2 linked regions of the Homo sapiens genome follow. The protein of the gene in region 1 interacts with the protein of each later gene in a pairwise test. Each region holds a gene or a part of one and is shown in the gene's direction. Other genes may lie near its edges.

The links.
Region 2: the proteins of GUCA1ANB-GUCA1A (region 1) and KATNAL1 interact in binary tests that used the Homo sapiens proteins (3 or more experiments, as listed by UniProt).

Annotation. Positions count from the first base shown.
Region 1 is NC_000006.12:42,158,132-42,165,405, forward strand, and holds part of GUCA1ANB-GUCA1A (guanylyl cyclase-activating protein 1), read left to right. Parts: intron 1-4,788; coding exon of another isoform or gene 4,789-5,118; exon of another isoform or gene 5,119-5,335; intron 5,336-7,274. Other genes in the region: CIMIP3 (ciliary microtubule inner protein 3), read left to right, coding at 4,789-5,118. UniProt on the Homo sapiens protein: Stimulates retinal guanylyl cyclase when free calcium ions concentration is low and inhibits guanylyl cyclase when free calcium ions concentration is elevated.
Region 2 is NC_000013.11:30,206,293-30,213,566, reverse strand, and holds part of KATNAL1 (katanin p60 ATPase-containing subunit A-like 1), read left to right. Parts: intron 1-3,124; coding exon 3,125-3,251; intron 3,252-4,828; coding exon 4,829-5,027; 3' UTR 5,028-7,274. UniProt on the Homo sapiens protein: Regulates microtubule dynamics in Sertoli cells, a process that is essential for spermiogenesis and male fertility. Severs microtubules in an ATP-dependent manner, promoting rapid reorganization of cellular microtubule arrays.

The DNA of each region.
Region 1 (7,274 bases):
AGCACACTTGACGAGGAGCATGTGAGCAAAGAATAGCCAGTTAAAAGAAACCAGATGTTAACCTGGAAAGTATGCAGTCAGGCCCCACCCTCAGCCAGAGCTGGCTCTGCTAGGCCCTGGGGGAGGTAATGGGGTGTCCTCAGCCCTCTGAGGTTAGTCACTTGGAGGCTGGCTTGGCCCCTAGAAAGGGCAGGGGAGGGCTAGTGCTGCCTGACTCCCTCTTCCTCCTCTTCCACCTCTTCCCCTAGACTGTCTGTGTCCCAGTTTTTGTGAGGGCTTCATCCCTGGATGTTCCGGGGACCCTGGCTGTCCCCTACCCCTGCTGCCCCCAGAGTCCTGTATGTTGCAGCAGCAGCATTCTAAACACAGCCGAGGTGTGGACCCAGGGCAGGTGGGCCCAAGCCAGGGCCTGGGCTAGGGCAGAAAGGGAGGAGAGAGTTTGAATCCTGGTTCCCACACTAACCAGTTGTGGGACTTCTGCAAGTTACTTACATGCTATTCTACAAACTGTGAACTCAGAAAAATGCTTTGATGCCTCCGAGCCTCAGTTTCCTTATCTGAAAAATGGAGGCAATGTCTCAAATGGCTCTTAGGAGCTTTTGCAGAGCTGAGTGGCTAATGCCTGACATTTGGCAGATCCTCAATCCTGTGAGTAAAGAGTGCCACCCTTCCATCTGTGGGCTGCTCTCTTCAGTTCCCCAGCCATTCTAAAAGCACCTGCCTCTGTCACCCCTGGCCCCAACCCCATGAGCCCAAGATGGCCAAGAGGCTGATGCAGCCTTGGGGCTGAAGGGTTAGTGGGGAGCAGGGATGGGGGGTGGGGTATCTGCAGCTCCCTCATCTTCATGGCCCTTCTGTGGCGTCAGGAGGACAAAACCCACATGCTTAGACACATCCTTAACACAAAGAAACCTAAGCCGCTTCTTGCAGCCCAGGAAAGGACGCATTCTCCAGGCCAGGATGTCAGCCTCTACCAAGGATAAAGAGATTGCCATGGGTCCTATAGCACTGATTGTCACTGCCCTCAGGGGACATTGGGCGATGACTGGAGACATTTTTGTTGTCACGACTGGGAGAAGGTGCTACTGGCATCTGGTGGGTAGAAGCCACCACTGTAATTCTGCAAGACACAAGACAACCCCTCTAACAAAGATTGTCCAGCCCAAAGAGGCAGAGGTACCAAGGCTGAGCCACTGTACTCCACAGGGACCCTCTTGTGCTCAGTCGTGGTGTCTTTGTCACCTTCACACCAAGAGCCTGGCATCCAAGAGGTGCCCAGGAATGGTTGTGAATGAACGAATGAAGCAACTCATGTCCTATCCTCAGCTCTGCTAAGAGATGGTGATTCATGGTGTAGACCTCACACTTCCCAGTGTGTTGTTCTGTCCATGCAGGGTCCAAGAACCCAGAGCCCAAATCCAGCAGTCAAAATCCCACAGTGTTCTTGCCAGACTGGGAAATCTGGCTGCCCCGCCCTCCAGTGAGCCGGAAGCTGTGCAGGGCAGCCTTGGCTAATCACCTGCCACCCAGCACACCTGGCAGGAGCTCAGTGGGTTGATGAAATGAGGACAGAAAGAAATAGAAGATCCACAGGCCCCTGGCAGGCCCTGCTCACATACCACAGTGGGCACAAGACACGTCATGGAGCACAGGGTGTGGAAAGACCTGGGTTCAAATCCCAGCCTTGCTCCTCACCAGTCATGTGACCCTGGACAGGGGACTGACCTCTTCAGTTTTTGTCAATTACAAGTGGGGCTAATAATAGTAACACCTTCCTCAAAGGGTTAATGTGAGGATTAGAAGAGGTAATCCACTGACAGGGTTTGGTGCGGTGCTACAGACTGAAGTGGAAAAGAATCTTTTGTTTTTTTTGAGATGGGGTCATGCTCTGTCACCCAGGCTGGAGTGCAGTGGTGTGATCACAGCTCACTGCAGCCTCGACCTCCTGGGTTCAAGCCATCCTCCTGCCTCAACCTCCTGAGTGGCTAGGACCATAGGTGCATGCCACCATGCCTGGCTAATTTTTAATTTTTTTTTTATAGAGACAAGGTCTCCCCATGTTGCCCAGGCTGGTCTTGAACTCTGGGCCTCAAGTGATCCTCCCACTTCAGCCTCTCAAAGTGTTGGGATTACAGGTGTGATCCACTGCACCTGGCTAGAAAACAATCTTTGATGACCACTATCACAGTTCATTTCCAGTGCTTGCCCCTCTGCCTATAAGCCCCTGTGCCCTGGGGCTGAGCCTGGAAGAGTCTGGGAAGGCTGTAGAACACTTGCTCATTTCTTGTGGCTGTGCATCAGCACTGGGGTAGGCTCTAGGGAAAAAGAGATGCATAGAACGCAGTCCTGACTGCTGGAGCCGTTTACAGCCTGTTGGGACTTTAGCAAAGGACTATACTGGGACTAAGATGAGACGAGACTGCAGCAAGCGGTCCCAGTGCACTTGTAGGACTCTGAATGACAACTTCTTCAAAATGTGTGTGCCTGACTCACCTTAGTCCCTCCAGCGAAGGAGCACATCCTGAGAGGGGTCCAGAAGGCACAGAAGAGGACAAGATGGGACAGGGGCTGCAGGAGTCTTCAGTGGTTCCTGGAGAAGGTTTCAAGTCTGCTGCTGAACTTGGAAGAATAGGAAGAATTTCAAAAACTGCAAATTTGCAAAACTGAGGGCACATTTATACCTGGGTAGGAACCAATAGGAACAAAGCCTGCTTTGGAGGAAAGCCCTGGACAAGTTTGGGCTGGGCAGATAGTTTGTAAATTAAACCCAGAGGAGGCCGGGTGAAGTGGCTCATGCCTGTAATCCCAGCACTTTGGGAGGCTGAGGCGGGCGGATCACCTGAGGTCGGGAGTTTGAGACCATCCTGACAAATGTGGAGAAAACCCATCTCTACTGAAAATACAAAATTAGCCTGGTGTGGTGGCGCATGCCTGTAATCCCACCTACTCGGGAGGGTGAGGCAGGAGAATTGCTTGAACCCAGGAGGTGGGGATTGCAGTGAGCTGAGATTGCATCCTTGCACTTCAGCCTGGGTAACAAGAGCGAAACTCCATCTCAAAAAACAAAAAACAAAACAAAACACAGAGGAAATACATCATGATTTGAGCAAAGGAGACTTCTTTTGTAAGAGGGCAGGAGCTCAACTTCCACTAACCCTGTACCTAGGGGTTCTCTCACAGTGCCTAGAGGCTGGAGGGCTGTGAGGCTGGGGGAGAGGAAATGGATTCCCCTGACCGCTGAAGCCTGGGGGAGCAGAATAGATCCAGCCTGACACACACGCAGGATGGATGATTGCCTACAGATGCTTCATCCTTTGGTGGTGCTGTCACGGTGAGGACAGTCCCTAGTAAAATGTACAGCTGGTACCTGAAACGTGGTGTGGGGATTTGAAGGTGAACAGGATAGCTTGGTCACAGGAAGGGTAGTGACAGAGGAATAAATAAATGTCAATGTGAGGCGCTAAATGTGTCAATGGGGGCCTCCTAGAGATTGAGTAGACCCCAATAAGTAATCAACCAAGAGTGGTGGTTAGGACGAGGTAGGTATGGGTGAGTAGGAGACACATTTGGTAACAATGAGATATGTTATAAAATAGAATGGGCTGGCTGGCTGGAAAGTGAGCGGGTACCCCTTACTAGAATTCAGTTCAATTGATCCAGCATTTATCAAGCTTTCTCTAAATGCATTCTTCTGGAGTAAAACAGTAAATAGGATTTTGGAGGCTGTTATGTCAAGGGTAAGAGTATGAGATAGTTGCCCTCAAGGAGCTGAAACTCTAATGGGAAAGACAGAATTTCCCTAGTGCACAGGAGGGAGAGCACGCAAGGCTGGGGAACACCTGAGCCAAGGTACAGGCTCTGGAAGTACCGGATGTGAGCAGGGAACAAGAGGTAGACTGTGTGGCTGAAATGCTGGGTAGGTGGAGGGATGGAGGGACTGGAGAGTGGAAGCCACATTCTTTTTTTTTTTTTTTTTTTTTTTTTTTTTTGAGACACAGTAGGCTGGACGCAGTGGCTCACGCCTGTTATCCCAGCACTTTGGGAGGCCGAGGCGGGTGAATCACCTGAGGTCAGGAGTTTGAGACCAGCCTGGCCAACATGGTGAAACCCCATCTGTACTAAAAATACAAAAATTAGCCGGGCGTGGTGGCGGGTGCCTGTAATCCCAGCTTACTCAGGAGGCTGAGGCAGAAGAATCGCTTGAACCCAGGAGGCGGAGGTTGCAGTGAGCCGAGATCGTGCCATTGTACTCCAGCCTGGGCAACAAGAGCGAAACTCTTTTTTTTTTTTTTTGAGATGGAGTCTCGCTCTGTGAGTGTGAAGCACAGCGTGACCAAGTAGGAGGGTGGGAGACAGGAAGCCCTGGTGGAGGGCAAGCTGGAGGGGCCCCACAGGATAGAGAGGTCGAAGGCCTGACGGAGCAGTGGCAGGGAAGAGGGAGGGGAGGGCCACACAGGAGCCAGGCCAAGGACACGGACAGACGATTGGATGCAGGGAAGGGGGGTGGGGAGGGACTGAAGATAATCCCCAGGTTCCTAGCCTCTGGGAGCTGGCAGTTGCCTCTGGTAGGTAGGCAGAGTTCTGCAGCAGCAGGGGGCCAGGTCAGGGGACCCTGATGGCTCTCCCCTGCTCTGGAGGTCCCTGGCTCCATGGTCAGCACAGCAGTGCTCCAGAGTGGCTCTGGGGGCTTCTGAGCAGTGGCTCTTTCTCCTCCCTTCTGCCCCTGGCATAGCAGTTGAAGTCCCAGTATCCAATGCCTCAGCTCTCCCCTTCTTTCCCCCCTCCCAGGACTCACAGAAACCCTCTGTACCCAGTCATGGGCCAAAGACACCGTCATGCAAGGGGGTGAAGGCTCCACACTCGTCCCGGCCCCGGGCGTGGAAGCAGGACCTCGAGCAGTCTCTGGCAGCAGCCTATGTGCCGGTCGTTGTGGACTCTAAGGGGCAGAATCCGGACAAGCTCAGGTTCAATTTCTACACCTCCCAGTACTCCAACTCCCTGAACCCCTTCTACACTTTGCAGAAGCCTACCTGTGGCTACCTGTACCGCCGGGACACTGACCACACCCGCAAGCGCTTTGATGTGCCTCCTGCCAACTTGGTCTTGTGGCGCTCCTAGGCCTGAGCCAAACGGAAGCCCCCGACCCTTCACCCTCACCCCTGTGACCTCAGGTCCCCAAGGGGAAGGGCTGCTCACTGCAGGAGGAGTGACCTATATTCGGGCTAAGACAGCTGTGCCATGCCCACCTATTGACAATGATAAAGGGAGGTCTCTCTTCTCAGCAGCAGTTAAAGTTTGTCCTTCCTTTCCCTGGCATCTGAATGGGTGGCTGTGGGTAGGTAAACAGGCCATGGGGATGTTATACAGTAAGGTTATGTCCAGAGGTTTCTGAAGACTTGGAAGGACTTGATTCTCAGTTCCCTAACCCCAAAAGTAACCTCAACCCTTCTCCAGAGCTGAGTCCCAAGCAAAGCCCATCCTAGCTCCAGCCTCCCGATGGTCCAGGCTCGGACCCCTCCAAGGAAGAGAGGGTGGGTGTGGTGGCTCACACCTGTAATCCCAGCACTTCAGGAGGCCAAGGTGGGCAGATCACCTGAGGTCAGGAGTTCAAGACCAGCCTGGCCAACATGGTGAAACCCCGTCTCTACAAAAATTAGCCAGGCATGATGGCAGGTGCCTATAATCCCAGCTACTCGGGAGACTAAGGAATGAGAATCCCTTGAAGCCAGGAGGCAGAGGTTGCAGTGAGCCGAAATCATGCCATTGCACTCCAGCCTGGGTGACAGAGTAAGACTCCGTCAAAAAAAAAAAATTAATTTAAAAAAAGGAAGAGATCCATCAACTGGCCATGACTCCTGCTCTCTTACAAGGTCATCTTACCCTGGTTGGAGCAGCTGCTGCAGAATGAGGAAGAATGCAGGGAATGAACACAGACTCTAGGTCCCCTCCCAGACCCAGTTTTACATAAAGCTGCTGCTTCTGACTTGTAGTTTGTTGGTGGGGGAAGGATTTCCCATCCTTGCCGTCTCCTCTGGTCTAGAAGAGCTGGCTCTGAGGCTAGTTGAGCTCATGGGTCATGGGGCATGGAAGAGGGGGATGGAGGCAGAGGGCACTGGATTCACAGCAGGGGCCTGAGTGAGTTCCCAGTCACTGCCATTCAGAGGGAACCCCAGTGGTGTGCTGGAGCCAGCTTGTACTGACTTGTAAGAGCTGGTTGTGCCCATGTCTTCCCTACTCCACAATCAGTGATTTCTTTTTTTTTTTTTTTTGAGACGGAGTCTCGCTCTGTCGCCCGGGCTGGAGTGCAGTGGCGTGATCTCAGCTCAGTGCAAGCTCCGCTTCCCGGGTTCACGCCATTCTCCTGCCTCAGCCTCCTGAGTAGCTGGGACTACAGGTGCCCGCCACCACACCCGGCTATTTTTTTTTTTTTTTTTTGTATATTTAGTAGAGATGGGGTTTCACCATGTTAGCCAGGATGGTCTTGATCTCCTGACCTTGTGATCTGCCCACCTCGGCCTCCCAAAGTGCTGGGATTACAGGTGTGAGCCACCGCACCCGGCCCACAATCAGTGACTTCCTGTTGGCAGTTTGGAATCAGCTGTGGTGGGAGCATTTACACCACAGAAGTGAGCAAATGCCTACAAATTGGAGTTTCTTTTTTCCAGAGAGCTCATCATTAAACATTTACCAGCACACCACAGGGTGAATTCAGCTGGTTTCATTCCTAGGAGTCTCGTCCCTCTGTAGGTATGGTGGTGTATTCTGTGGGGCATAATTCCTGTGCAGGAGAGGTTGGGGTTGGTGTGGGAAGGAGAGACAGGTGTCCAGAGACCCCGACAAGCAGCCCACAACAAGGCCAGGCTGTCCTGTGGGCCTTTCTTTGAGAAGATGGTAAGCAGTGTGGAGGGAAGTGGAGACCCCTCGAGGCGACCCTAACAGCATAGAATCCGCGTTTTCCTCTTGGCTTGCTGTAGGCTCTCTTTTGAGTTAGAGGTTTTCCTCAAATGCCTGATGAGCCTTGGCTGGCCTCAGACCATCTGGCATCTGTACCAGGTCTCTCCTTCTGCTTGGTCATCAGTGTTCAAGGAGCCAGCCACGGGAATGAGCTGGGGTGGGGGAAGGCGCATGGTGGTTTTCTCACTGTCCATATGTAGACTTTCTTTTAACGCTCCATTTATAGAATGGCACATGTCTCTTCCTGAGGCTGTGCCTAGAGACTAGCGGCTCTCTGGCCCAAATCTCCAGAAGAACCTTCAATCAGGGTCAGGAGGGGA
Region 2 (7,274 bases), on another chromosome or scaffold:
AGCTTTTAGATGTGCTGCTGGATTCGGTTTGCCAGTATTTTATTGAGGATTTTTGCATCAATGTTCATCAAGGATATTGGTCTAAAATTCTCTTTTTTGGGTGTGTCTCTGCCCGGCTTTGGTATCAGGATGATGCTGGCCTCATAAAATGAGTTAGGGAGGATTCCCTCTTTTTCTATTGATTGGAATAGTTTCAGAAGGAATGGTACCAGTTCCTCCTTGTACCTCTGGTGGAATTCGGCTATGAATCCATCTGGTCCTGGACTCTTTTTGGTTGGTAAGCTATTGATTATTGCCACAATTTCAGCTCCTGTTATTGGTCTATTCAGAGATTCAACTTCTTCCTGGTTTAGTCTTGGGAGGGTGTATGTGTCGAGGAATTTATCCATTTCTTCTAGATTTTCTAGTTTATTTGCGTAGAGGTGTTTGTAGTATTCTCTGATGGTAGTTTGTATTTTCTCATAGTACCGGAAGCTAGAAGTACAAGACCAAGGTGTAGGCAGGGTGGTTGCACTCTGGGGCCTCTCTCCTTGGCCTATAGGTGGCCATCTTGTCCCGGCGTCTTCATGTGGTCTTCCCCTTAGGGGTTTTTGTGTCCTAACCGCTTCTTCTTATAAGGACACCAGTCATGTTGGATTAGAGCCCACCCATATGACCTCATTTTACCTTAATTACCTCTCCTGTCTCTAAATACAGTCACATTCTGAAGTACTGGGGGTTAGGAGTTGCCTAAAAATTTTGAGGGACATGGTTTAACCCATACCATCTATTATGTGATTATATCAAAATGTATCCATCATATTGTTTGGTGGACATTTTAATTATTTCTTGTTTTAGGCTATTATGAACAGTGCTACTGTGAACATTTTCATACATGTATAGTGGTAAGAATGCCAGAATGGAGCATTCCATCCTAGGAGTGAATTGCTAGGTAGTGCCGCACAGCTGCAGTATTAATAGATGAATTCAATATGTTTTCCAAAGTGCTTGTGTTGCAGGATCCTTGGTGGCACCTTTGCTGGAGTTTTGCTTGAGCCCAGCGTTCTGACCACTGGGCCTGGCAGGCTGAGCTCGGCTGGAGCTACTGGCCCTGATCCCACGCCGGCCAAGGGCAAGCCAGGCACAGAGTGGTGAGGGGTGCATGAGCAAGCAAGCACCAGGGTCCGGCCACTGTGCATTGCCAGGCACGCTGGCTATTGGGTAGTCTGACTTTTTCTTGCTGATTTTTAGAAATTCCTTAAATATTCTTGATACAAGTCTTTGGTTGCTTATATATGTTACAAATATCTTCTCAAACTCTGTAACTTATCTGTTTTCACTGTGTCGACAGTATCTTTTGATGAATAGAAGTTCCTCATTTTAATGTGGTCAGTTTATCAATCTTTTCCTTGTTGATTTTTTTTGAATATATGTCTTGAGAATACTTCCCTGAGGTCATTGAGATATTCTTCTCTGTTATAAAATACTTACAACTTTGCATTTAGATGTAATATATCTGGCACTGATTTTTGTGCACAGTATGATGTAGGACCTGATTTCATTTTTTTCCCTGTGGATAGTCAGCTGTTCTTACATCATTAATTGAAAAGACACTCCTTCCCCTCACGGCCTGAACCACCTCTGTCATAAATTCAGTGTCTGTAATTATGCTTCGGTCTGCTGCTGGGCACCCCGTTCTGTACTATTGATCTATTTGTCTATTTCCACAAGAGGGTCACACTGCTTTGAGTCCTATACCTTTGTAGTAAGTCTTAAAATCTGATAGAGCATTTCTTTCCACTTTGCTGTTGCTCTTCCAGAGCATCTTGGCTGTTCTTGGTTCTTTCCATTTCTGTGAACATTTTGGTATCTGCCCGTTAGTTTTTACAGATAGACCTTTTAGGAGGATCTTTATTGGAATGCTTTGGCTGTATAAGATCAATTGGGGGAGAATTGTCAATTTCATGAAAGACAAAACAAAATGAACCAAAAAGTAAACACTGGGGAACTGTTTTAGATGAAAGAAGGTGAATGAGACATAGTAACTGACTGCAATGTGTTATGGTTTGTAAAAGTTATAAAGGCTTGGGACAAATAGGGAAACTTTGCTTTGAATTGTGTATTAGACACTAATATTCCAGTATTAAATCTCCTGATAAGGGTGAGAAATGCTATGTCTACCTTTTTTCTTAGGAGATACATGCTGGGGAATTTAAGGTGAAGTGTTGTGATGCCTGCAGCTAGCGCTCAATTCAAAAAGTTGAGGGAGGAGAGATGACGAGCCAGCTAGAGTGATAATGGCAAAATGTTAGCAATTGGTGAATCTCAGTGAAAGGGAAATGGGTATTCATTGATTTTCTTTTCCTGTATATATGGCATTTTTCAAAATAAAAGTAGAAGAAAATTAAATTTCATTTTGTATCTCAGGAAATAGTAGAGCGCCAGATAAACTAGTAATGCATTATCTTAGTGTGCTGTGCTAAGCAGATTTGCCACTAAAAGCACTAGTGAAATGGCAAGCATGATTGGTTATTTTAAAAATTCTCTAGTATGTTTGAACTTATTCAGTTCACATTTAAATCATACTGGAACAGCAAATGTCTGTGGGCTGGCTCTCCAAGTAAAAAATACATTAATGAGCTTTTTGTGCCAATTACTGATTTTCAGGAAATGTTCTTTAAACTACTGATAAGAGTTCTGGAGATCCATGTCATACTAACAGGTGAGCAAAGTAATTCATAGGAGTTACACTTGATGCAGTGTAATTTTGTAACACCAGGCTAAGTATTTTTTTTTTGAGAAGCATTTCCGGTGCTTGAAAACTGATATTTATATTTTTCATGAAGAATCTCAGATTCTTTGTTCTCATAGTAGGTATCTTCACAGTCTTTAAAGAAAACCTAGGTGGTTTTTGGTGTTTTTTTTTTTTTTTTTTTTCAATTTTTAGTTACTGCAACAGAGGCACATAGGAATTTAAATGATTCCATGAGTCATGCAGTGAATTGGTAATAATACTAATGGACACACAGTTATTGACTCTTCTTTGCATTGGCCTCATTTTTCCCCCAAATGTTAATATGTCATTTCTCAGCAAAATTATTTGTAAAGTAAAACATCTAACAACACCACCAAAATCTTGTAACAGCAAAAGGAAGAGCTGAGCTTCTGAAGATCAACCTTCGTGAGGTCGAATTAGATCCTGATATTCAACTGGAAGATATAGCCGAGAAGATTGAGGGCTATTCTGGTGCTGACATCACTAATGTTTGCAGGTATTTTTTTAATGATCTGTGATTTTAGACATTAGTTATAGACTTCGCAGGAGGACTGGTCTTAAAGTCAATGTAGTTAGCCCAGTGTAGTTAGACATGAAAGCAGCTACCCATTTCTTTAAAATGGTTTCCCATTTGTCCCTTTTTTTTTACATATAACTTTATTTTTCATTGTGAGATGAAAATTATATAGCAGTGGTCGTTGATGTTTTTGATCTTTGGATTTTTAAGAAATTGTTGTGTCGGTGGCTTACGCCTCTAATCCCAGCACTTTGGGAGGCCGAGGCGGGTGGATCACGAGGTCAGGAGATCGAGACCATCCTGGCTAACACGGTGAAACCCCGCCTCTACTAAAAAATACAAAAAATTAGCCAGGTGTGGTGGCGGACACCTGTAGTTCCAGCTACTCGGGAGGCTGAGGCAGGAGAATGGCATGAACCCGGGAGGTGGAGCTTGCAGTGAGCCGAGATCGCGCCACTGCACTCCAACCTGGGCAACAGAGCGAGACTCTGTCTCAAAAAAGAAAAAAAAAGAAATTATTGTGTCTAACTCGATAATAATGACTTTGACAACCTAAGATTAGTTTAGCTTTGTGTTGGAGCCTTTCTGCATCAACCTAAAGTAATATTATTTAGTTTTTGTTGGCATTATTTAAACACATGCAAATGAGCAAAAATGATCAGCGTAAGCTGGGGAAGATACACGTTTAAAATTTTTTCAGTTTAGCGACATCATAAGTTTTAGACAGTTCCTGTCACTGCAGTTATTTTTTTTCTTATTTTTCTAACTGCACTTAAATTGACTTTAGTAGCCTTTCTTTAAAGCCACAGCATCTGTTTTTCTCACCTTTTCTGCTCGCATTTTTCCCATGTGCATCCAAGTTTAGTGGCATACAATAAGGTTGCAATAGTTCCTACTGCTACTATAGCAAAATATTTAAGAACTTGACATTTTTGTTGGCTTGGCCTTCCTAATAGCTTTTTTGTGATTATGAATTATCCTTTTCTTCCAGACCTTCATATTTATTTATAGTTGGTCAAAGAGAGCTGCACATGGGATCAAGAGAAGCCAGAGTTTATGCCTTCAGTTGCCTACAAATACTCCATGTAGGGAATTCCATGTCCACTATATGTGGATATTCATGTTTCAGAGGGAGTGATTCGTGTCTTTATTCCTCTATTTAGGCTGTAGACAAACTGGTCTGTGGTTTGAATTATCTTAACATTAGCCATATGTTCATTTCCAAGTGTACAATTCAGTATTTCAAAATTTGACTTCAGTTTCCTAAACTTCTTGGCTGTCTTTGAGGAGCAAGTGGAGAAAAGAAAATTCAGTACTATTCGAGCTTAACTTAGACTTTTAGGGTTCGTTAACTATACATTTCATGTTTTTGGTTGTTTGCATCCTGTCTTAACTTCTGCTGAACCCCCAGGATGTTTCTTAAGTGGAAAATTCTAAGAAGCCTCATAAAAACATATAAAATAATCTTTTGATTTTTTTTTCATAACTTTGTTACAATTGAAAGTGTTTAAAACATGTGCAAAAATTACTGTTGACTGATTTTGGTATATTTTTAGGGATGCCTCTTTAATGGCAATGAGACGGCGTATCAATGGCTTAAGTCCAGAAGAAATCCGTGCACTTTCTAAAGAGGAACTTCAGATGCCTGTTACCAAAGGAGACTTTGAATTGGCCCTAAAGAAAATTGCTAAGTCTGTCTCTGCTGCAGACTTGGAGAAGTATGAAAAATGGATGGTTGAATTTGGATCTGCTTGAATTTCTGTCAGCTCTTTAATTTCTGGTATTTTTGTTGATAAAATACGAAGAAATTCCTGCAATTTTTAAAAAACAAGTTTGGAATTTTTTTCAGTGGAGTGGTTTTCGCTTAAAGGAAAAAAAAATCTAAAACTGCGAAGAATACTAAATGTAGTTGAGAAATAATTGATGGCGAGAGTTTGCTAGTCTCCCTCCCCGGCTTTGTGCTGGTATTCCACGTATTCCTGCATTAATATTGCACACCCAAACCAGTCTATCAGGGAGGCTGAAGCAAGGGCGCAGTGTGATATTTTAGGAATACAGAAGATTTAGAAATACCCCTATTTCTCATTTGCAGTTTTTTTTTCCAATTCTGTGCTCTGTCAACATGAGGGACCTATCTATGTATGTTGACTTTTAACATCAAAATTGGATTTGTGTCAAACATTCATTGTTAAGAGAAGAATGACAGTATATTTTGGAGGAAATAATGAATTTACTAATTAAACCTTTAGAATTTATGACTTACTGTTAGAGTCTGTCATATGGTTAGAATTTTTACTTCCGCTACCCCTGCCATTTCTTCTGCTAGCTACTTCATAATATCTTGAGCTTTACTGAGGAATATTCTCACGCTCTGTGGTATTTGAATCATTTTGCCAGGTCATTTCTCTGTCTTTAGTATTTTTTGCTGGTGCTTCTTACATTTAATATGGAAAGGTGGGAAGAATATTACTGCATTAGATGTAATTCTTCATTCTAGACTTCCAAGTTTGTTTTCACTTTTTTGTGTGTGCGTGAAGGAGTCTGTGTCACCCAGGCTGTGTAGTGCAGTGGTTGATCTTGGCTCACTGCAACCTCTGCCTCCTAGATTCAAGCAATTCTCCTGTCTCAGCCTCCCAAGTAGCTGGGATTACAGGTGCGCACCACCATGCCTGGCTGTGTTTTCACTTTTCTTTCAACATGTTCAACCAGATATATAGCCATTATTTTTCTCAGCTCCAGCATTGTTTGATTTTTCTTGAGTTTGATTTTAGTATTTGAGATAAATACTTTTACATTCTAAACAAGTCCACTCTCTGTGGCTAACGCAAAACAAATGAAATCTTTATTGTTTTCCAAACAGCTAGTTTAACAAAACAGCATCATACATAGTGAATGATGTTCATTGGAAAATTCTAAAATTTGTCCTTGTCTAGGTTGAGAACTTTTACACACACTAAGATAAAGATAGAAATCTGACATGCTCACTCAATTCAGCAGGAATTACACATTAGAAAGAAGCCAGAAAAATAAATGGCATATATCCAATCACAAGTAAATGATCCTGGCGTTAGTTTTTATGATTACATGTGTCTCATTAGGCAATTTATGCTTTAATGGTCAAGCTTTTAAAAATTTGTATTTGATAACATCCTGAATTCTCAGTTTCGAATAGTGCCTACTGGTTTAAAACTAAAAATAATACAGCTTTTTGGACATTTAACCAAGATACTAAGAAGGTTTTTTTTAAAAAAAGAGATTTGATTATTTTTCCCTGCTAAAAACTGTAAATGCCTTATGTTCTTTTCAGATAACTTAAGTCTGACCTAAACTCCAGTATTCATCTGATGCTGTAAATTGCCCTTCTTTCTGAGACACAGATTATAAGATGCCAGATCATAAGACATCATGATTTTATTGTAATTGAATTCTTCCTAAAAATTGAGAGGTTTCCTTTTATTAACTTTTAAAATAAAGAAATAAGTAGTTTCATTACGATTATTTTGCAAACTATTGCCAGTCAGAAATGCACTTTTTTTTTCCCTGAAGTTTTAGGAGCCGTCACTAAAACATTAGTCTTGTGATTGTTAAAACTTGTTTGTAATGGGTTGGTGCAAAAGTAATTGTGGTTTTTCCATTACTTTCAATGGCAAAAACCGCAATTACTTTTGCACCAGCCTAACAATAGTTGATTAGTTAGACCTTTTCTGGGTTTTGTATTGATTATCTTGGTGTGCATTTAATTATTTTTCTGAATTCTTCATGGATAATGACATAGTAATTGTGATTCTTTTAATACCAGTTAAGCAGTATTTGGCAACTTAAACTTCCTGGGAGCCTAACTTTACTATGTTAAGTGAGTCAGGTGTGCTTTTTATTTCCCTTGTTTCTCATTTTGCCCTGTCAGTGGATGGTAGATGCTTTGTATATCTTAAATCCCTTAAAGGATCTTAAAGACATCCCTCAGGTGTTCTATTTAACTTTTATTTTATTTTATTTTATTTA